2 separate regions of the Homo sapiens genome follow, and region 1 is linked to region 2. The links come from fine-mapping of genetic effects on gene expression. A gene starts in region 2. The other region holds a variant in brackets. All regions are shown on one strand. Distances are from middle to middle. Region 1 overlaps IKBKB (inhibitor of nuclear factor kappa B kinase subunit beta). Region 2 holds the start of POLB (DNA polymerase beta).

Region 1 (11,156 bases), 53 kb after region 2:
GCTTTATCTCTACACAGCTGCAGTTAGTAATGGGTGACTGTCAAAGGTTAGAAAAATAAGGAGAAAATCGAAGTGCTGTTGAGTTCCCCCATCTCTCATTGTGGGTGATGCCAAGGGCTGTGTTCATATCCTGCTGTGAGTGCCACTCCCAGGACATGCCTATCTCCAGGGAGAGCCACTCCAGCACGCCAAGCCCCATGGAAAGTTTCTTTTATTTTATTTATCTGTCTCTTTGTTCTGAGACAGGATTATCTTTTTTCTTGAGACTGAGTCTTGCTCTGTCACCCAGGCTGGCATGCAGTGGCACAATCATAGCTCACCGTAGCCTCAACCTCCCAGGCTTAAGCCATCCTCCCACCCCAGCCTCCAAAGTAGTAGGGACCACAAGCGCACACCACCACATCTGGCTAATTTTTCATTTTTTATTTTTTGAGGAGACAGGGCCTTGGTATGTTGCCCAGGCTGGTCTCAAACTCCTGGCCTCAAGCTATTCTCCTGTCTCAGCTTTCCAAAGTGGAAAAAAAAATTTTTTTTTAAGAGGCACAAGGGCCTGGAGGAACAGTGAGAACAGCACCTGAAGTGTGTCTGGGAATGGCCACTGAACAGGAATAAACGCCTGGGCTCCCGCCCCCACTATTGTGACCCTTCTGGAGTGAAGAGGTGCACTCGCAGAGCAACCGACCTCTTTTTCAATTAAAATAAAAATTGTTGTTGGCTGGGCGCAGTGGCTCACACCTGTAATCCCAGCACTTTGGGAGCCTGAGGTGGGTGATCATTTGAAGTCAGGAGTTGGAGACCAGCCTGGCTGATGTGGCGAAACCCTGCCTCTACTAAAAATACAAAAATTAGCCAGGCGTGGGGGCGGGCGCCTATAATCCCAGCTACTCGGGAGGGTGAGGCAGGAGAATCACGTGGACCCAGGAGATGGAGGTTACAGTGAGCCGAGATCACGCCACTGCACTCCAGCCTGGGCAATACAGCGAGACTCTTGTCTCAAAAAAAAAAATTATTTTGTTCAGAGCTTCCAGTTTTCATAATGTTATATGGCCTTATTCAGCCTCAGAGATGGAGAGGTGGCCTGCAGCTGGGTCTGTGTGGGCTGGGACCCAGGCTCTGCTGCTACAGCTGTGTGAGGCCCAACCTCTCTGGGCCATGACATCCACCCATCATGTGGGAACCATACCTGTGCACCCATGTGTGAGCTTTTGGAAATCGAATGAGGTAACATGTACTAGCAGGCTGTGTGGTACTGTCATAGGGAACAATGGGGAGGAGGGCACCCAACTGCCCCTGAGACCAGGAGGGGCTGCCATCCACCCACCAGAAGTGAACATTCTAGGGAAGAGGAGGTGGTGTGGTGAGAAGGTGGAGAATAGAGCCCCACAGATGAGTCCAGGTGGGTCAGGTGGATCGGATGGATTGGGGCGGGTCTGCAGCCCTGGCCCGGCTCTCTGATCATGAATCCTGCTCCCTCTCTGCTATGCTCCCTGCCCCCGTGTGTGGTGCTGTCCCATCTCTAGAATAAAATCCCTCCTAATAAGGAGAGCAGTGGCACTGGCACCAAAGGCCTAACGTGGCCCTAACATGCCCAGGGAGGAAGCATTTGTTTTGGAACTTGCCCAGTCCTTCCCCACGCCCAGACCTGTGATGAGTTTTCCTTGTCATTGGAGTAATCCCAGCAGAGTGTGCAGCACGCCCTTACCCCTTCCCTGGTGTTCTCGGAAGCGCCTCTGACTCACACACACACCAGCCCCAGGTGGGCAGGGAACAGAGGATCTGAGAGGCAAAGCAGCCCTGCTGGAGTCACTGGGGCTCCCCAAGCTTCCTGATGATGACAGAAGTGAAAGGTCTCCCCATCCCTCTTCCTGGTGTCCCACCTGCCCAGACAGGCTGTGCACCTGGCAGCCGTGGGAGCCTCACCTTCCGGAGATCTCCTCCTTGGCAGTACTCCATGGCCAGCAGGGGCAGGTCATTGGGCGCCAAGTTCTGCATCCCCTCAGGGACATCTCGGGCAGCCACCACATTGGGGTGGGTCAGCCTAGGAGGAGGAAAACCGATGAGAGCAGACCCAGGCTCCTGCCCAGACCCATCCCCACCACCCCCACCAGGTCTCAGCAACAAAGGCCCAGGATAACCCAGGGCTTTGAAACAGAGGAAGACAGAGCCCAGGACGGGTGGCCAACCGCAATGCCTGGGTCAGTGGCGCTCACCCAGCCCCACTCACAGCACCAGAACTCAGACCCTGAGGGCACAACTGCGTGTAACTTCAGTTTTTTGTGCGTGCCACATCCCAAGTCCTCATCGTGCTGCCAAACTGCTCCTACAAGGACCTTTCAATCTCATGCCCTCCACATGGGGAGGATGTGTCACACACGCAAGCAGGCAAACAAGGTGGTGCCTGCTCTTTTTGTTTTCATATTTTTTTTCTTTTGTCTGTTTAATTTTCGGCAGGTTGGTTCACGCACACACATCACCCCAAGGTGGACACACAGAGAAGGGTCTGAGAAGGAACTCATGTAACCAAATGGAACCATGACATAACCAAATAGCACCTCCTCTTTTTAAGAGGCTGGCAGAGGAGCCCCTGCTTGGTGTCCTCCTCACTGGCTCTTTCGGAGCCCACCTCACGCCTCACTAGCTAGGGGGTCAGCAGCCACCAGGCAGATGGACAGCCCCGTCTCCACACTAGAGGAATAAATGTCAGCGACAGCATGACAGCAGAGAACGGTCACATACCACCTTGGAACTGGAAATATAGGAGGAAAGAAGGCTTTTTTTGCTGACAAAAGAAAAGTCACTGTGATAACTGTGTTAACTTATTTAATACAATGAAATTGATGAACAGCCCTTGACAAGGCCCAGTGTGGACTTTAGCTGCTCTTCCTCTGGTGTCTTTAGAAGCAGCAGAGTCACCGTGGAGACTGCCAGGCTGGCGCCCTGATGGAGGGGCAGATATTTAAGACTCTCTTCTCTTTTTTTTAGACGGAGTCTCGCTCTGTTGCCCAGGCTGGAGTGCAGTGGCTTGATCTCGGCTCACTGCAAGCTCCGCCTCCTGGGTTCACGCCATTCTCCTGCCTCAGCCACCCGAGCGGCTGAGACTACAGCGCCCGCCACCATGCCCGGCTAATTTTTTGTATTTTTAGTAGAGACGGGGTTTCCTTGTCATTGGAGTAATCCCAGCAGAGTGTGCAGCATGCCCTTCCCCCTTCCCTGGTGTTCTCTGTAGCTGGGACTACAGGCGCCCACCCATGCCCGGCTAATTTTTTGTATTTTTAGTAGAGACGGGGTTTCACCATGTTAGCCAGGATGGTCTCAGTCTCCTGACCTCGTGATCTGCCCGCCTTGGCCTTCCAAAGTGCTAGGATTACAGGCGTGAGCCACGCACCCAGCAAGACTCTCCTTTCTAGACACACCGGGGGCTGCTGCTCCAGCTTTCCCTTGGGTCCCTATGCGCGAGGCCCTCACCTTCTCATGATCTGGATCTCCAGGCACCACCGCTCTCGGTTCCGGGGGCTGAGCTCCTGCCGGCACTGCTTGATGGCAATCTGCTCACCTGTTTCCTACAGAAACAGCACAGTGGGGACCAGCAGAGCGAGCTGCAGGCCAAATCCCACCCTGTCTGCTGCATGGGAGGGGTCTCCAGGCCCCAAGCGTTACCTGCAATCACCTCCTGGTGCTCCAAGGTCACATGTACACCCTGATCGACAGCCACGTAGCACCTGCCCTTTGGGCTGTCTCCTTACCACTCCACCTCTCACCCAACCTCTCCAGCCTCATTTCTTTCTCTCTCTTTTTTTTTTTTTGTTTGAGATGGAGTCTTGCTCTGTCGCCCAAGCTGAAGTGCACTGGCACAATCTCAGCTCACTGCAAACTCCACCTCCCGTGTTCAAGTGATTCTTGTGCCTCAGCCTCCTGAGTAGCTGGGATTACAGGCATGCGCAACCACACCTGGCAAATTTTTGTATTTTTAGTAGAGACGGGGTTTCACCATGTTGGTGAGGCTAGTCTTGAATTCCTGACCTCAAGTGATCTGCCCGCCTCGCACTCTCAATGTGCTGGGATTACAGACGTGAGCCACCGCACCCAGCCTCTCCCACCTCATTTCTATCCATCCAGAGTCTACAGAGCCTTCAAGGCCCTGCTCCATTCCCAGCTCCGCCATGAAACCTCTACTGACCATTCCTGCGCAGAGAGGTTTCCCTGTCCGAACCCCGGCTGCTGCTGTATTAGGCTGACCCATGGGACACTGCTGATAATTGACCACATTGACCTACAAAAATGGCACCTGCATGTGGTTCAACCTAATAGTGAACACCACATTGAGTGTCTTCATTGTTTCATGTGAGAGTTTTGTCCTTTCAGAGAGAACGCAAGCATAATATGGCATAATATAGCAGATGAAACACTGGCTGGTTCAAATTCCAACTGTGCCATTTACTAGCTGTGTGACCTTGGGTAAACCACTTGGTCTGACTCAGTTTCTTCTGTAAAATGGGAATACTGACACCCATCTTTCAGGGCTTGAAAACAAGCCTCTAGCAGGTATTAGTAACCCTGCAGAGCAGGGAACCCAGGTCATCCGAGTACTCCTGTTTAACATCCTACAGAGATTGGCTCCTATCTGCATTTCCAGCCACTCTTCCCACGACACTACAGCCAGACGGCCCCACCCACCCTGGCGCTTGGCCCTGCTCTGCTACACTTGCCAGCACAGGTGCATGGGCACCACGGTCTGCCGAGCTCAAGAGGGTCTCACCCTCTGCTATACTCCTGTAACAGGTAATTCCTTCAGTGCACATGCCAAAGAGTTACTTTCTGCAGAGTAACAGGCTGTTTTCTCTTCTCTTTGTTAAATTATAGACTTGTCCATCTTCATGGGCTTTAACCTCTATCGAGGTAACCAGCAGCATCCTCAGCGGTGGCTCCTCCACCTGGTGAATCATGAGCTGAGCCACTGGCTCCTGGCGGCCTCCCCTCTTCTCCCTGGTGCATGAGTGGGGACACTGGAGACGGGCAGGCCCTGAGGCTGTGGCACGGGCAGCAGGGAAAGCGGCTCTGGCCTCGGGCACTCCAGCTGCCACAAGGGAGTCACCACTGCACCACTGTCACCTCTTTTGGCTATGGGGGGGTCTCCAAGACAACTGCGGGGCAGCAGCTGCCCAAGGCAGCAGCTCCCGGAGCCCCAGCCTGAGAGCCGATCCTGCCACTGCTAAACAAGCTGACCTGCACCAACATCCTGCACCTCCTGTGTACCTACAGCACGAAACTCCCTACCCGCACACACACCTGGGCAAGAGCCACACCTGCAGGGTGGCACAGGGCACCCAGCAGTAGGAGAAGATTTCAGCATTGTACCAGACTCTACTGTGGCTCACTTGAAGGATGTCCTAGAGGCCCTGTTAGGCCAATTTCTGTTTTCTCAGTTTATGAAGATGCAAACTGAAAAGAATCATAAATCTTGTAAGTGAGCAACAGACATGGTACTGAATGGGACTTAAAAAGACACACAGATCAGCCTGGGCAACGTGGCAAAACCCCATCTCTACAAAAAAATGCATAAATTAGCCAGGTGTGGTGCCATGCACCTGTAGTCTTAGCCACTCAGGAGGCTGAGGTGGGAGGATTGCTTAAGCCCAAGAGGCAGAGGTTGCAGGAGATCTGGGCAACAGAGTAAGACCCTGTTTCAAAACAAAAACAAAAACAAAAACAAAAAAAGACACACAGAGGACTGTGGCAAGGCCTCCCAGTGTGGCTGTTCCCATGGCACTCAAGCCACCTCAGTCTCACAGTTACCAAACTGGCCAGGATCCCTGCAGGAACAAGGACCTTCAC[A/G]GCAAGAAAAGGAAAAATGGAAACCTCCACATACACCAGAAGCTGTCTAATAAGACCACTGAGTCACTGACCAATAAACCAATCCTTAACACCGACACCAAGAACCAAAAGCTTCAGAAAAAAAGGTGGAAATGGAACAGCAGACTCCATGCCAGAAAGGAGGTACTGTCAACACTTCTAAAATACTCTCAGAAGCTGCTTTCATCAAAGCCCAATACCACTTTGGCTAAGCTTTCCATCAGATGGTGACCTTGCATGCCTACTTTTTTTTAACAGCTCTATTGAGAATAATTCATGCACCATACAATTCATCCAATTAAATTACACAGTTCAATAGTTTCTGGCATACTCAAGAGTTGTGAGACCAAAACCACGGCACACTTTAGAACATGTCTGCCATCCCACAACAAAACTCCACACCCATCAGCAGCCACTCCCTACTCCCCGAGCCCCTCTAGTCCTAGGCAACCACCCACCTCTTTCTGTCTCTACGGATTAGCCTGTCCTGGACATTTCATATAAATGGAATCATATATCATGTGGCCTTTTGTGACAGGCTTCTTTCCCTGAGCACTGTTTCCAAGGCTCACCCATGGTGCAGCCACAGGCTTACGTCTGTGACTATGGGAGACCCCCTCAGTCCAGTCTGCGGCAGTAGGCATGGGCATCCAGGTTCTGCCCTAAGTATCCTTCTCATTCTCTTTGTCTAGTAGAACCCTGATCTTTGGCCTAGATTCTGAGGCGCTCTCTGAACAAGAGCTGACCTCTCTCAACAATTGTAAAACCTGTTGCTATTTTTTCTTTTTAGAGACAGGGTCTCACTCTGTTGCCCAGGCTGCAGTGCAGTGGAGTGATCATAGCTCACTGCTGCCTAAAACTCCTGGGCTCAAGCGATCCTCCCACCTCAGCTTCAAGTAGCTGGGATTACAAGCATGTGTCATTGTGTCCAGCTAATTTTTTTTATTTTTATTTTATTTTTGTAGAGACGGAGTCTCACTATGTTGCCCAGGCTGGTCTCAAACTCCTGGCCTCAAGTGGTCCTCCTACCTCAGCCTCTCTAAGCACTGGGATTACAGGCCTAAGCCCCTGCACCCGGCCACCTTGTTGCTATTAAACTGATTAGTACAGTGGTACAAACCATGGTGGACACAAGTCCATCTCAAGCTTTTCAAGAATTAGGGAATGTGTCAAAAGAATAACATTTCTGGCCAGCCACGGTGGCTCATGCCTGTAATCCCAGCACTTTGGGAGGCCCAGGCAGGTGGATCACCTGAGGTCAGGAGTTCGAGACCAGCCTGGCCAACATGGTGAAACCCCATCTCTACTAAAAATAAAAAATTAGCTGGGTGCAATGGTGGGTGCCTGTAATCCTAGCTACTCGGGAGACTGAGGCAGGAGAATCGCTTGAACCCTGGTGTCAGAGGTTGCAGTGAACCGAGATCGTGCCACTGCACTCCAGCCTGGGTGACAGAGTGAGACTCTGTCTCAAAAAAAAAAAAAAAAAAAAAAGAATAACGTTTCTTTAATTGATGTGCAGACCATGTTACACCTCCCTGTACCTCCCGATTCCTGGTCTGTTCTCAGGCTGACGTGAATTTGCTTTCAGGTTTCACTTCCCCACAGTGCTCAGACACATTTTTGCCCAGTTCTGTGGTAGCTTCATCCACAGCAGCTCTGCCTGACGATATCTGCTATGGCTTAAGTTCCACAGTTTTCCATAATTCAATGAAAGCCAATTCCTGTTGTAGCAGTATCACCTCGGTATTTTTTTTTTTTTTTTGAGACGGAGTCTCGCTTTGTTGCCCAGGCTGGAGTGCAGTGGCACGACCTCGGCTCACTGCAAGCTCCGCCTCCCGGGTTCACGCCATTCTCCTGCCTCAGCCTCCCTAGTAGCTGGGACTACAGGCACCCATCACCACGCCCGGCTAATTTTTTGTATTTTTAGTAGAGATGGGGTTTCACCATGTTAGCCACGATGGTCTCCATCTCCTGACCTCGTGATCCACCCGTCTCGGCCTCCCAAAGTGCTGGGATTACAGGTGTGAGCCACTGCGCCAGGACATCACCTCAGTATTAAGGGGCAATTCGGCCACAATGGCTCTGCATCCCAGGTGGGACTGATGGTTATAAAAGGACAAGTTTGGTCCCTTTTGTCTCTTGCCCTTTCGCCTTCACCCTATGATGATGCCTTGACCTTGGACTTCATAGCCTCTAGGACTATGAGAAATAAAATCATTATAAATTACCCATTCTCAGCTACTCTGTGATAGCAGCACTGAGCCGACTGAGACACTGCTACAGACACTTGCCTCCAGTTAGGCGGAGTTTGCAGAGGAGCTCAGACGTGGGGAACGCAGGGTTCCACAAACAGAGACCGATGGCCCCGCTGCAGCGTGAGGTGCCATTGCCAAGAGCATCTATCCACCTCCATCCACCCTGCAACATTTCCATGGACACTATTCCAAGCAATGGTTTAGCCAAAGAGACTGTAACTTATGGTTCGTTACCTTAGAATGACTGAGACTAAACCAAGATACTGAAAAATCTGCAGCAACGTAACTTCAATACACAGAAGAGGGCACTTGTTTTCTATTGCTGCCGTAATAAATTACCACAAACTTGGTGGCTTAAAATAACACACTTTATTTCCTTGCAGTTCTATCTGCTGAAGCCTGATGTGGGTCTCCCTGAGCTAAGATGTTGGTGGGGCTATGCTCCATCCAGAGGCTCTAGGGGAGAGTCTGTTTCCCTACTTTTCCTTCTGCATCTTCTAGAAGCGCCACTTTCTTCAGCTCGTAGCCCCTTAGCCCATCCGTGTGTCAGCCATGTCCCGCCATCTTCCTCACATGCATCGGCTGACCCTGGCTCTGCTGCCTCCTTCTCCCACGTTTAAGAACCCTTGGGATTACACTGGGACCCCCAGGGAAGCCAGGCCAATCTCTAAGGTCAGCTGATTAGAAAACTTAATTTCATCTGCAACCTTAATTTCCCTTTGCCATGCTGCCCCACCCAGTCATAGGTTCAGGGATTAGGATCCAGATTTCTTGGTGGGGTTGGGGGGGATTATTCTACCTATCATAAATGAAACAGGACAGATCATCAGATCCAAAAAATAGATTAGATGACTTAGTTTATTAAGTGATTTTAGGTAATCTGTCTAGCTACAAATTGGATAATTGCAGTCTTTTGCCCAACACAAACACTGGACCTGATACACAGCTGTCACTTGGCCCAACCCAGAATCAGGAGGAGATTCTGATACTGAAGACTTGATATTGGTCTTAAATATCCAAATGCAAACTAAAAAGACTGAACTCAGCAATGTGAACACTGAACAAGTCTTGAAATAACTGGGCATAGATACCAAAACTAACTTTCTACTCACAGACAGCTCAGCTTCGCCCTAGAGTTGAGGCGAAATCCTAACTCCCTGGGCCTAGGAAGGTCTGCGTAGATACAGACATACTTAAACTTTTCCTAACACAGTGGCCTTCATCTGCCTCTAGGAAGTATTCCGAAATATTCCCAGTTTTTCCATGAGTAATGTTTCATTTGAAACAGAAATGCAAACAGAATGACTTTGTTACTAAAAACATACCTGCTCTAGAAAGCAAAATTCAATTAAAACAGAAGCAGGCTACGATCACCGGTTCTGAAACCCCAGGGAGTTTGTTCTTCACTAGCAGTGGAACTCAAACACATGTAAGGTAAGAAGGATGGCTTACTTTATTTTTCCTGGAATCTACTGAGTCTTAGCTTAGTTCTGTGGAAACCCAGACTAGGCCTGCGCCATCTCAGTACCCAACTTCTGGTATATGAACTCCTCGTGAAGGACAAAACTTAAAACTGCTTTGTGGCTGGGCATGGTGGCTCACACCTATAATCCCAGCACTTTGGGAGACCAAGGCAGGTAGATCGCTAGAGCCCGGGGGTTTGAGACCAGCCTGGGCAATATGGCAAGACTCTGTCTCTACTAAAAATATTTTTAAAAACTAGCCAGGCATAGTAGTAGATGCCTGTAGTCCCAGCTACTTGGGAGGCTGAGGTGGGAGAATCTCCTGACCCTCGGAAGTCAAGGCTGGGCAATAGAGCGAGACCTGCGTTGAGCTGTGATCATGCTGCTGCACTCCAGCGTGGACTACTGGAGTGAGACCCTGTCTCAAAAAATAAACACACACAAAACAACAAAAAACTGGTCTGTATTTTGAGAAAACGGAGAAAGGGTCCCCTGTATGTCCAGATTGAATGTAGTGATTATGAAGGTCCTCAGAGTTTGCAATTCCTTGCCTTTGATGCATGTAAACATAAAACTTATATATAAGCATGTGTGTCATAAGGTGTAAAAAAGGCAGAGGGGGAGCACATCCTCAGACCAAAAGGTGCCTGGCAGATGCGAGCTGAAGACCCAGTCACAGGAGAAACAAAAGGGGCCCAGCTTCCTCAAGTTTGCCTCTTCCAGCGACTCAGGGGAAACTCACAGAGGCCAAGAGCCATGTTTAGACCCTTAGCGCAGAAAGCCCAGTGTCCCGTTATCATGGCAAGCATCCAACCAGGCCACTGTGGACATGGGGGCAATTAGTAAAAACCTCCTCCTCCTTCTCAGACCCCACCCCCTGAAATGAATGCTTCAGAAAGGAGGTGCAGGGCTGGGACCAGAGAGACTGGGCAGGAGGACCCAGGGCTGGGAGCCAAAAAGGTCCGGGATCCAGCTGCAGTTTCACCCCTGGCTCAGCAGGTAACTGGACAGACCCTGGGCCCCAGCATCGCCTGGTCTACGCTAAGAGGGCCATGACTTCTTCACCCTACTCCCTACAGTGCAGACCCCCAAGGGGCACAGTGGCCTGCCGCCTCACCCACAGAAGCCAGGCACTCGGGCTCAGGAGACAAGCAGGTCCAGGTGTAACTCCCTCCCCCACCGCCTGGTAAAGGTGCGATAGAAGCCCATGGTACAAGCATCTGGGTCCTCATCCATAAGATGGGGATGGCTCCATCCACTCCAGGGATGTCAGCTAAAATGAAACACAGCATCCGACCACAGGGAGCCGGGAATAAACGACCGCAGCCTCACTTCCTTTTCTGGCCCTGTGGAGATGCTGCTCTGCCCACCTGAGTCGGCTTCTGTCTTCTTGCCAGGCCCTCGAAAGTGTACCTCCTTTCCAGATCCTGCTAAAGCTCCATTCACCCCAAGAAGCCTCCCTTCCCCAGCGTTCGGGAGAGATCATGCGGACAGGGAACCCAGCTCAGATGCCACATGATGCCCTGGAAAAATGGCAGCCACTGTTATCCATGCAGTTCGGTGCTTGGATTTAGACTCACTTAATGCA
Region 2 (11,156 bases):
AGAAAGAAAACTGTAATTACATATATTTTTAAAAATTTTAACCCATCTTCTCCCAAATGAAAACATTTTGAGCTTGAAAAAGTGTGTATGAAACAGCATGAATGTTATTCCAAGAAATCAGGAGTAGTGAAATCAGCCTGTGTGGGTCAAGGCTGCTTCAGACAGGCAAGTTTGGTTTGGTGGGAACCCACCAAATTTGGACACGTGTGAACTCTTCGATCAACATGCTAACTAAACTTACCAATTTCTTAGCTTCAGCTCCACTCTTTATTTTGTGTGGGTATTTTGCTATAACAGATGCTGCTTTTCTATAAGGAAAGAAGAAAAGGAAAACCAATTAGAAATCCATCAAGGCCTTAATTTTTCTTAAACTGGAATACATATACAAGCAAATATCTATGCTTATGCTTTCACCAAGATAACTAATTTTCTTTTTTTTTGTTTTTTTTGAGACAGTCTCCCTCTGTTGCCAGGCTGGAGTGCAGCAGCGCGATCTCAGCTCACTGGAACCTCCGCCTCCCGGGTTCAAGTGATTCCCTTGCCTCAGCCTCCCGAGTAGCTGGGACTACAGGCGCGCCTTCTTGTATTTTAGTGGAGATGATGTTTCACCATGTTGGCCAGGATGGTCTCGATCTCCTGACCTCGTGATCCACCTGCCTTGGCCTCCCAAAGTGCGGGGATTACAGGAGTGAGCCACTGCGCCTGGCCTAATTTTCTACCTCCATATGGAACTTAAAAATCAGATGAGCTGACAGACCACCTAATATATGTCTAACTTTTTTTTTTTTTTTGAGATGGAGTTTTGCTCTTGTTGCCCAGGCTGGAGTGCAATGGCGCAATCTCGGCTCACCACAACCTCCGCCTCTGGGGTTCAAGCGATTCTCCTGCCTTAGCTTCCCAAGTTGCTGGGATTATAGGTACCCGCCACCATGCCTGGCTAATTTTTTGCATTTTTAGTAGAGACAGGGTTTCTCCATGTTGGCCAGGCTGGTCTCAAACTCTGACCTCAGGTGATCCACCCGCCTCAGCCTCCCAAAGAAAGCTAGGATTACAGGTGTGAACCAGCTAGGATTACAGGCGTGAACCACCACTCCCGGCCACTTTTTTTTTTTTTTTTTTTTTTTTTGAGACGGAGTCTCGCCCAGTCTGTCGCCCAGTCTGGAGTGCAGTGGCGTGATCTCAGCTCACTGTCACCTCCGCTTCCCAGGTTTAAGCAATCCTCCTACCTCAGCCTCCTGAGTAGCTGGGATTACAGGCATGCGCCACCACATCTGGCTAATTTTTTTGTATTTTTAGTACAGACAGGGTTTCACCATGTTGGCCAGGCTCATCCCGAACTCCTGACCTTGTGATCTGCCCACCTTGGCCTCCAAAAGTTCTGGGTTACAGGCGTGAGCCACCACGCCTGGCCTACGTCTAACTTTTAAAGTATCTTGAAAAGCTCCACATTTGAGAATAACTGAATTTAAACTCTATACGTCAAAGAGTATGATTTGTACTGAGTAACAAAGTGATTTGTTTTGATTTGTGCTGAGTAACAAAGTGATTTAAACTGTATACATAATACTCAAGGGATGGGGAGACCAGCTGTCTTTCTTTGGGAGTAAGTAGAAATCATCATTGGGCCCCCTTTTTTAAAATAGCTAGTTTTTAGAAATTGTTCATAACTTCCTCATAAAAATGTGCCACATGTGAATTATTAGACACCAGATCTGCTTATGGATACCTATGTTACTTTTTTTTTGAGATGGAGTCACCCAGGCTGGAGTGCAGTGGCGCCATCTTGACTCACTGTAGCCTCTGCCTCCCAGGTTCAAGCAATTATCCTGCCTTAGCCTCCTGAGTAGCTGGGATAACAGGTGTATGCTACCACACCTGGCTAATTTTGTGTATATATATATATATATATATATATTTTTTTTTTTTTTTTTTTTTTTTTGAGACGCAGTCTTGCTCTGTCTCCCAGACTGGAGTGCAGTGGCGCAATCTCGGCTCACTGCAAGCTCCGCCTCCCGGGTTCATGCCATTCTCCTGCCTCAGCCTCCTGAGTAGCTGGGACTACAGGCACCCGCCACCACGCCTGGCTAATTTTTTGCATTTTTAGTAAAGACGGGGTTTCACCATGTTAGCCAGGATGGTCTCGATCTCCTGACCTCGTGATCTGCCTGCCTTGGCCTCCCAAAGTGCTGGGATTACAGGCGTTAGCCACTGCGCCCAGCCAATTTTATATTTTTAGTAGAGACAGGTCTTCACCATGTTGGCCAGGCTGGTTTCCAACTCCTGACCTCAAATGATCCACCTGCCTCGGTCTCCCAAAGTGCTAGGATTACAGGCATGAGCCACCACACGCAGCCCTTGGATAGCTATTTTAAAATTCATAGTTTCAAACTGCATTCCCTTATGTCCCTATATCAATTTATTTTTTTTTAATGCAGATGGGATGTTGCTATGTTGCCCAGGTTGGTCTTGAACTCCTGGGTTCATGCCATCCACCCGCCTTGGCATCCCAAAGTGGTGGGATTACAGACGTGAGCCACTGTGCCTGGCCCCTACATCAGTTTTTAAAAATTGCTCCCGCCTTTCCACCCCCTAGTGCTGCTGGGCCTGCAGGTCTCTGTTCCACAGGATGGACTTTGTTAAAGTTGTTAAGAATAAGGCCTACTTTAAGAGATACCAAATGAAACTTAAAGATGACAAGATGGTAAAACTGATTACTATGCTCAGAAACGCTTGGTAATACAGGATAAAAATAAATACAACACACCCAAATAGAGGATGATAGTTCATATAACAAACAGAGATATCAATTGTCAGATTGCTTATGCCCGTATAGAGGGGGATATGATAGTCTGCGCAGCATATGCACACGAACTGCCAAAATATGGTGTGAAGGTTGGCCTGACAAATTATGCTGCAACATATTGTACTGGCCTGCTGCTGGCCCACAGGCTTCTCAATAGGTTTGGCATGGACAAGATCTATGAAGGCCAAGTGGAGGTGACTGGCGATAATACAATGTAGAAAGCATTGATGGTCAGCCAGGTGCTTTCACCTGCTATTTGGATGCAGGCCTTGCCAGAACTACCACTGGCAATAAAGTTTTTGGTGACCTGGATGGAGGCTTGTCTATCCCTCAAAGTACCAAATGATTCCCTGGTTATGATTCTGAAAGCAAGGAATTCAATGCAGAATTACACCAGAAGCACAACATAGGCCAGAATGTTGCAGATTACATGCACTACTTAATGGAAGATAAAGATGCTTACAAGAAACAGTTCTCTCAATACATAAAGAATAGCATAACTTCAGACATGATGAAGGAGATGAAAGCTCATGCTGCTATAGGAGAGAATCCAGTCTATGAAAAGAAGCTCAAGAAAGAAGTTAAAAAGAGGTGGAACCATCCCAAAATGTCCCTTGCTCAGAAGAAAGATCGCATAGCTCAAAAGAAGGCAAGCTTCCCCACGGCTCAGGAGGGGGCTGCAGAGAGCTAAACCAAACAATTTTCTACGAGGATTTTTCAGATAAAGACAATAAACTTATGGACAGAAAAAAAAAATTGTTCCCACTGCAGTTCAGCATAAAGCGGTGACCTGTAATTCTTGCCCACCTCCACACATATCCAGTTTGTTAATCTGGTGACAGATTGGATACACCCTGGGAGCTCGCTGACGGTATTCTGTCTATAATTTCAATGCAAAATGTAATTCAGAGTTGATGCTGATGAGAAGTGACAGTACAGCTAAGTCAAAAGCATAAACACTGGATAGTCTTTGGAACCTTGGATTTGCATTCTGTTATAGCACAAATAACCCTTTATATTTGGATTTGAACTTCTCTCTAAGCACATGACTGATGATGAATCTGAAAAGACATATTTATAAGTAAAGGAGCAGGCAAACACAGTTTATGGAGGGGATCATTTCAGGAAAGGCAAGTAGTTCCAGGTCATTGGCACTGTGAGGCAAAGCCTAAAAGGGAAGAAGAATCAGATGAAAGGCCTTTTGTATGCTATGATGTATTTGGGTTTTATCAAGGTAAAGAGAAAATATTATTTAATTATTTGACTGACAAGATCAGATAACTATTTTCAAAAGAATACTTTGGCCACAATCAACAGAAATGTCTACTGGGGTAGGGAGGAGCATGCAGGAGTGGTAGGGAATCACCTGCTTTTCCAGACTTATTTCCCACTCATACCATACCCGTTAAGCAAACTGAACATCTGACTTCCAGAAAACGTTATACCCTTCATGTCTCAATGCTTTGGCACATTTTATTTGTCTAGACTGCTGGCCCTCTCACTTATCCCGATGAGCTTCTTCAAACTAAACACCTCCTTTCTGAGACCTGCTGTGATCCAAATAGAATACAAAGTTGAATATCTCTGTAATTTTGAATCATCAAATGTATGGATGATAATACAATTATTTTACTTTACAGAGGAAGTCACAGAAGTAAGGAAAGGAGGGAGCACAATCAGCTCTGAACTGTGTGGAGTGGGAATGGAAGAAGGGAGCTGACTTGGGATAAAGACAGTATAGGGCTAAAAATGTGGAAAAAAGTCCAGTGATACACAGATTTGGAGTCACTGACATAAGTGGCATTTCAAAGTCAAGAATGGCAAGATTGCCAGGGAAACTACAGAAGTAAGAAAAGAGGGCTAAGGGCAGGCAGACTCCCCGGAACCACAGGTTAACTATCCCTTATCTGAAATGCCTGGGACCAGCATTGTTTCAGATTTTGAATTTTTTTCAGGGTTTGGAATATTTGCGTATACATAATAAGATATCTTAGGGATATGGGAGATACAAGTCTAAATACAAAATTCAGTCATATTTCTCACACACCTTACGCACATACCCTGAAGGTAATCTTATATAGTCGTTTTAATAATTTTGTGCATGAAACAAAGTTTTGACCATTTTGACTGCCACCTACTACATGAGATCGGATGTGGAATTTTCCACTTGTGTCATCATGTCGGCAATCATCCAGATTTTAGAGCATTTCAAATTTTCAGATTAGGGATGCTCAACCTATACCAACATTAAAAGGTAAGACAGAAGAAGAGATGAAAGACCAGAAAGAGTGCCATTACAGAAGTCAAGAGATATTCACAGCATGAGCCAGGGGTGAATGCCACAGAGAGTCCAATAAGATGAGACGTAGGTGAGCGGATTTTCAGAGCACTGGTAGGTCCAGGCAAGGACTGGGACTTCTTGAGTAAATGATTAGGTATTAAGAAGTCCAGGCAAGGAATGAAGATTTTTCAAGAAGATTCACCATAAAGTGAGAAAAGAGGGAAGGTGCTAGCTAGAGGGAAGTTAAGATTGTTTTGGTTTTGCTTTTAAGAGCTGAGGGACTTGCACATATTTATAGGCTAAGGAGAGCTGACACCGAGGCTGATGCCTGGAATCCCAGCACTCTGGGAGACCAAGGTGTGTGGACCATTTGAGTTTAGGAGTTGGAGATCAGCCTGGGCAACATAGCAAAACCCGGTCTCTACAAAAAAAAAAAGAAAAAAAAAGAAAGAAAAAAAAATTAGCTGGGTGTGGTGGCGTGCGCCTGTAGTAGTCCCAGCCACTCAGGAGGCTGAGATGGGAAGATCACTTGAGGCTGGAAGGTTGAAGCTGCAATGAGCCATGATCATACCACAGCGAGACCCCGTCTCAAATAAAAATAAATAAATAAATAAATATAGGCTAAGGAGTAGAAGCAGGTGGATGTGGAAAGAATGAATAGGATAAGGCCCCTGGTGAGATGAACAAGGACAGGATCCCATGAACAAGGAACAAGGATCAGGATCAGGATCCCACAGGATCAACTTTAGACCAACCAAAAGAAAAAATGTGATTCCTTGAACCACATATATTTCACAGTATGGACTTCATCCGCTGTCTTTCATTACGGTTAAAATTACACCGCATTTCTAGTAATTCATGTTTGATGATGACAAAATACGTATCAGGCTACAGCTATCTGCAATCAGAATTGGGAACTTATCTGAACTGATCCTATAACGCACTGCCCACATTCTTCAAGAAATAGTAAGGTACCAGCCTCGATTCTTGCTTTTTCCCGCTCTTGCAGATGGACCAAATATCCACTGGGCCCTCAGTCCTGTTAATTGCCACACTAAACAGGGTATCCCAGAACGTATGCTACCCGAGAATGCTGCACTGTCCCACCTGTAAGCATTGTACTTGTGGATAGCTTGGCTCACGTTCTTCTCAAAGTTTGCGAGTTCTGAAAGGCAACAGAAGGCTCGGGTGAACAAGAACCACGAGTAAACAAACGAGAACTGTTTTCTGGAAGGGGATATGGCAGCCTCTAAGAGACAGTGACCACCCGTTTCCTCCAAGGGCCAGACCAAAAGCAGCCCAAGCGATGGCCCAGGTGTAGCCGGCAGGACTGACAACCAGCCAGGGGCGCCGGAGGGAGATCCCCACGGAAGACGACCCGCTGCAAGGAACCTACCCTACCCACTGGACTGTCGGTGTGGGAGAGAAGGAAGGCAGGGGAAGAGGCTGGAAGGAAAGAAGAAAGCCAGCGGGGCCCGGCCCGGTGCTAACCTGTGAGCATGTCGGTGATTCCCCCGTTGAGAGTCTCCTGCGGCGCCTTCCGTTTGCTCATGGCGGCCTGCACCCGAGAACCCCAGAGTGTTCAGAACCAGGGACTAGAGCCCTCTCCCAGCTTGAAGGAGGTACCAGGACTTGGAGACGGGAGCAGGAGCAACCCAGCTCCGGCGCGACCGGCGGAACAATGGTTGCCCCCGATGGGGGGCGGGGCGCACGGCGCTTGTTGTGACGTCACGCGTCCTGGGCGGGGCGGGGCGGGGCTAGAGGGGCGAGCCCTCGGCAGGTGAGGAGAGAGAACTCGGAGGGTTCGTGGACTCGTGGACGTGGACACGGCGCGGGGGAAATAGGCACCTCAGAATGACAGCCCAGGGGCCTTCCTATGGGAAGACCTGGAGTTTTGACCTAAGATATTAAATCTGTTTTCTCAGTGTTTATCTGGAATCCTTTCCCTAGAAGGGGAAACGGGAGTGCGATCTTGATTCTGAAATACTTGCGCTGGTGGGGTAGCTTCCTGCACAAAAATGTGCACTGTAATAGCTACCCAATGCATGGCGCGTTTTGTACGTGGTTAGAGGCGACACTGGCGTCACACTGTCAAAACTTTCTCTAAGGATACCGGGCAGTCCACACTCCAGTGCAGCCCCTTACGTACTAGGGCGCTGCCGGAGCCCGGCGTGAACCATGCCGAGAACAGGAATCCTCCCGCACACGTGTTAGTACACCTGCCAACCAGTGTCAAAAGATATTTTATTTTTAATCCCCCTGCCTTTGCGGTAGGGACCAAATTAATGAAGAGACCACAAGAAAGGGAGAAGTGTTTCATCTAGATCATGAGCAATGGAACCCTAATTATAACATGATGACCTACATCTGAGAAATTTACAGTCTGCTTGAGAAATGGAAATGTCACATCAGCAATAGTTTATTTTACAAGCGTAACTCCTGGGTTCATATCGAACTGCAATTCCAGGCAATTGCTTTGTGCATCGAAAAATTAAAATTTATTACAAAATGATACGTAGTTGCTGTAGAGAAATCTGGAAAAATGTATAAAAGGAGAAAATTAAAATCAGTGATCTCACCCTACAGCTGAACTATTAATATTTTGGGACGTACACTTCTAGTCTTCTAACCCAGTCTATTAAAAATTCCCATTATTTTCCAATAAATATCATTAGTTTCTTTGATTAGCAAGGTTGTGGTGATTGTGTTTCCTTACAATATCAGTGTATATCTTAAGTTATGCTTATTGGAAATCTGTAATTCTTCTTTTTTTGAATTTCCTATTCATATCATTTACCATTTTCCTAATGGGGGTAGTTTGTTACTAATCTGGTAGATCTTTTCTATATATTACTACTTGCCCTTTTATGGATAGCTTTTGTAAAAATTTTGTACATATTTGTATTTTCCTCAATTTATTACTTGAGGAATAAAAGTTAAAAAAACTTTATGCCTGCAACTTAACTATCTGATTAGTTAAGCTGCAGTGAGCAGTGACCACTCTCATTTACTCTTTATACTCTCATTTACATATATGACTTGTCCTAGTTTTCCCTGTTCACACTTTTTTCTGTCCAATCTCTATTCCAGGTGATATTCAGATTATTTTGCTCTGAAGAATTATTCCTCCTTAAATAAAAATGTATTTACCTCTGAATTTTAAAAGTTACAAATGTAGGGAATTGTGGGATCAGTTTTACAAATTTTTTTGTTTTGAGACAGAGTTTCACTCTTGTCCCGCAGGCCAGAGTGCAATGGCACGATCTCGGCTCACTGCAACCTCTGCCTCCCGGGTTCAAGTGATTCTCCTGCCTCAGCCTCCCGAGTAGCTGGGATTACAGGATCCTGCCACCATGCCCAGCTAATTTTTGTATTTTTAGTAGAGATGGGGTTTCACCATGTTGGCCAGGCTGGTCTCAAACCCCTGACCTCAAGTGATCCACCCGCCTTGGCCTATTAAAGTGCTAGATTACAGGCGTGAGCCACTGCACCTAGCCCATTTTTACAAATACTATATTTTTAAAATTAGTGCCAGAGAAACCAAGGAAAATAATCCATTATCTGTCCTTATCGTCTTAGAACAACCGACATTTGATCTGCTTCACAAAGTTCTTCTTGAAATAACTTGCTTCAATTGGCTTCTAAGATTCCACATGCTCTGGGCTTCCTTTTTCCTCACTGGCCAGTCCTCAGCAGGGTGTGTGTGTGCGCACATGTGCGCCTGAGCACTGGTTCCCAGCTCCTCCTCCACTCTCCAGCCTTTATGGGAAATGGCTTCACACTTCAGTCTTCTAACCAGCTTTTCCAACTTGTCCAGTTTTACCTGTTTAAATGGCATGTCTAGCTTGAAAGTCTCCTAAACTCATAGTTCAAGTCTTGACCTCTCCCTTGAGTTCCAGTCTCATACATCAGGCTGTCTACTGGATAGCTCTAGTCCATAATAGGCATCTCAAAGATAAAATGTCCTAAAGAACTCCTGACTCTTGCCCCACCAGCTTCTCCTTAACTTTCCCCCATCTCAGTTAATAGCATTTTAATCCACCCTGCTATCAGGCCAAACCCATAAGAGTCATTTTTAATTGCTCTTTTCACACCCCACATCCCGTCTGCCAGCAGACCTTGTCTGTTCTGTCTCAGGAATATGTGCTGAACTGGATGACCTCTCATCCCGAGCTGCCACTGCCCTAGATCAAACTCCCATGACCTCCTGAACTGTTACCAAAGCCTCCTCAGTGGGCTTCCTGCTTCTGCTCTTGTCCTCTTATAGAATATTCCCCAAACAGAGGGTGATCTTTTTAGGATGTAGTATCAAAATATGTCCCTATTTATACACCCTCCCACTGCACTTAGGATAAAATCCAAGCTCCTGGCGGGGCGCAGTGGCTCACACCTGTAATTCCAGCACTTTGGGAGGCTGAGGCAGGCGGATCACCTGAGGTCAGGAGTTCAAGGTCAGCCTGGCCAACATGGTGAAACCCCATTTCTACTAAAAATACAAAAATTAGCCAGGCGTGGTGGTGGGCGCCTGTAATCCCAGCTACTTGGGAAGTTGAGGCAGGGAGGTTGAACCCTGGAGGTGGAGGTTGCAGTGAGCCAAGATCGGGCCACTGCACTCCAGCCTGGGCAACAAGAGTGAGTCTCCAAAAAAAAAAAAAAAAAAAAAAAAAAATCCAAGCTCCTTTTCATGGCCCACAAGGCCTTATGTGATCCACCTCCTGCCTGCTCTCCTACTGCATTTCTTGCCACTTTTCTCATTGTTTAGGACACACACACGCCCATATTTCATACATACATGTGCCTGCTCAGCATTGTCCCCTCATTGTATGGTTCTTTCCCTGGCTGCCTTCTTCTCATCATTCAGGTCCCAGCCTGGCAGTCACACCCTTGTCACGTTCCTGGACCAGGCCCAGGTTTTTACTTGTGTGTTTCCTTCACAGTACTAAGAAGGACTGGAAATATTCACACGTGGTTGCACATTATGCACTCCCTGCTCACTCCTCCTCCCACCAATGTGCAATGCCAGCTCCACGGGAGAAGGGACTTAATTTTTGTTTCCACGTAAGTACTCAATAAAGTTAATAACTTAAATTGCAGTTTTGCTGAAGTGTCAAACACGGCCACCTGTAATCCCAGCACTCTGGGAGGTGGAGGCAGGAGGATCGAGCCCAGGAGTTCAAGACCAGACTGGGCAACATGGCGAGACCCCATCTCTTTTACAAAAATAAGAAAAATGTACTGGGTGTGGTGGCACGAAGAGATGAAGCATGGGACTCTTGGACTCATTCAACCATCTCAGTAGAAGTCAGGAATAGAGATGGGATTATCCCAGAAAATTTGTGGAGGACCCTCTTGTCTAATGGCATTGAACTCCATGACATTACACAGGGGACCCACAAGATTTTTGAGAATGTTACATCAGCAGAGACAGCTTAGCCTGGAAGTGACAGAGACAGTGTGAAATGAGAAAAGGCTGTTGAAATCCAAACTGCTACGGGCAAGAAATGGGCTGATAGAGCTACTGGGCTGCAAACATGCGATCCTTCAAGAAAAAGCAAGAATGACTCCAAGGGCAGAGCCAGGGGCACAGAGGCAGAGGCCAGAGGAGCAGACAGAAGTGATGGATGCAGAGACACAGGCCTATGAGGTCACTGTGAGCACAGACTCAGAGGCCTATGGAGCCACCATGGGTACAGAGAGGCCCATGGTTCTGCTGTGAGCAGACACAAAGGTCTGCACAACTGTTGTGGGCCCAGTGGGCGGCACTTCAAGCTAGGGAATTATTTGCAGGCCTTGAATCCTAATGGAATTTTCTCTGCTAGATCAAAATTGGTTGGGAATGGTGACTTCTTTATCCCTTCCAATTTTCCCTTTCAGAATGAGAACATCTATCATATGCCTATTACATCATTTTAAATAAATTTATTTATCCAAATTCCAAAGTTATTTGGAAGCTGATAACCTGTAGTATCACAGGTCCACAGCCAGAGAAATTTAATCCTAAAATGAATCATGCACGGGGTCTCACCCACATCTGACTTAGATGATGAGATGCAGGACTTCTGAGCTAATATA

The links.
Region 1: its variant is fine-mapped to the expression of POLB in whole blood (TOPMed, PIP above 0.99).

Annotation. Positions count from the first base shown.
Region 1 is chr8:42,281,038-42,292,193 of GRCh38, reverse strand. IKBKB (inhibitor of nuclear factor kappa B kinase subunit beta) reads right to left here. Exons shown (of 22, transcript NM_001556.3): 3 at 3,466-3,560; 4 at 1,921-2,038. Among named protein-coding and RNA genes, the nearest start is that of IKBKB, 15 kb to the right of the region's middle. The variant A/G (reference allele first, on the strand shown) is at 5,833.
Region 2 is chr8:42,334,105-42,345,260 of GRCh38, reverse strand. It overlaps POLB (DNA polymerase beta), which reads right to left and starts at 6,767. Exons shown (of 14, transcript NM_002690.3): 1 at 6,576-6,767; 2 at 6,192-6,249; 3 at 242-308. The coding sequence starts at 6,636. It also overlaps the pseudogene RPL5P23.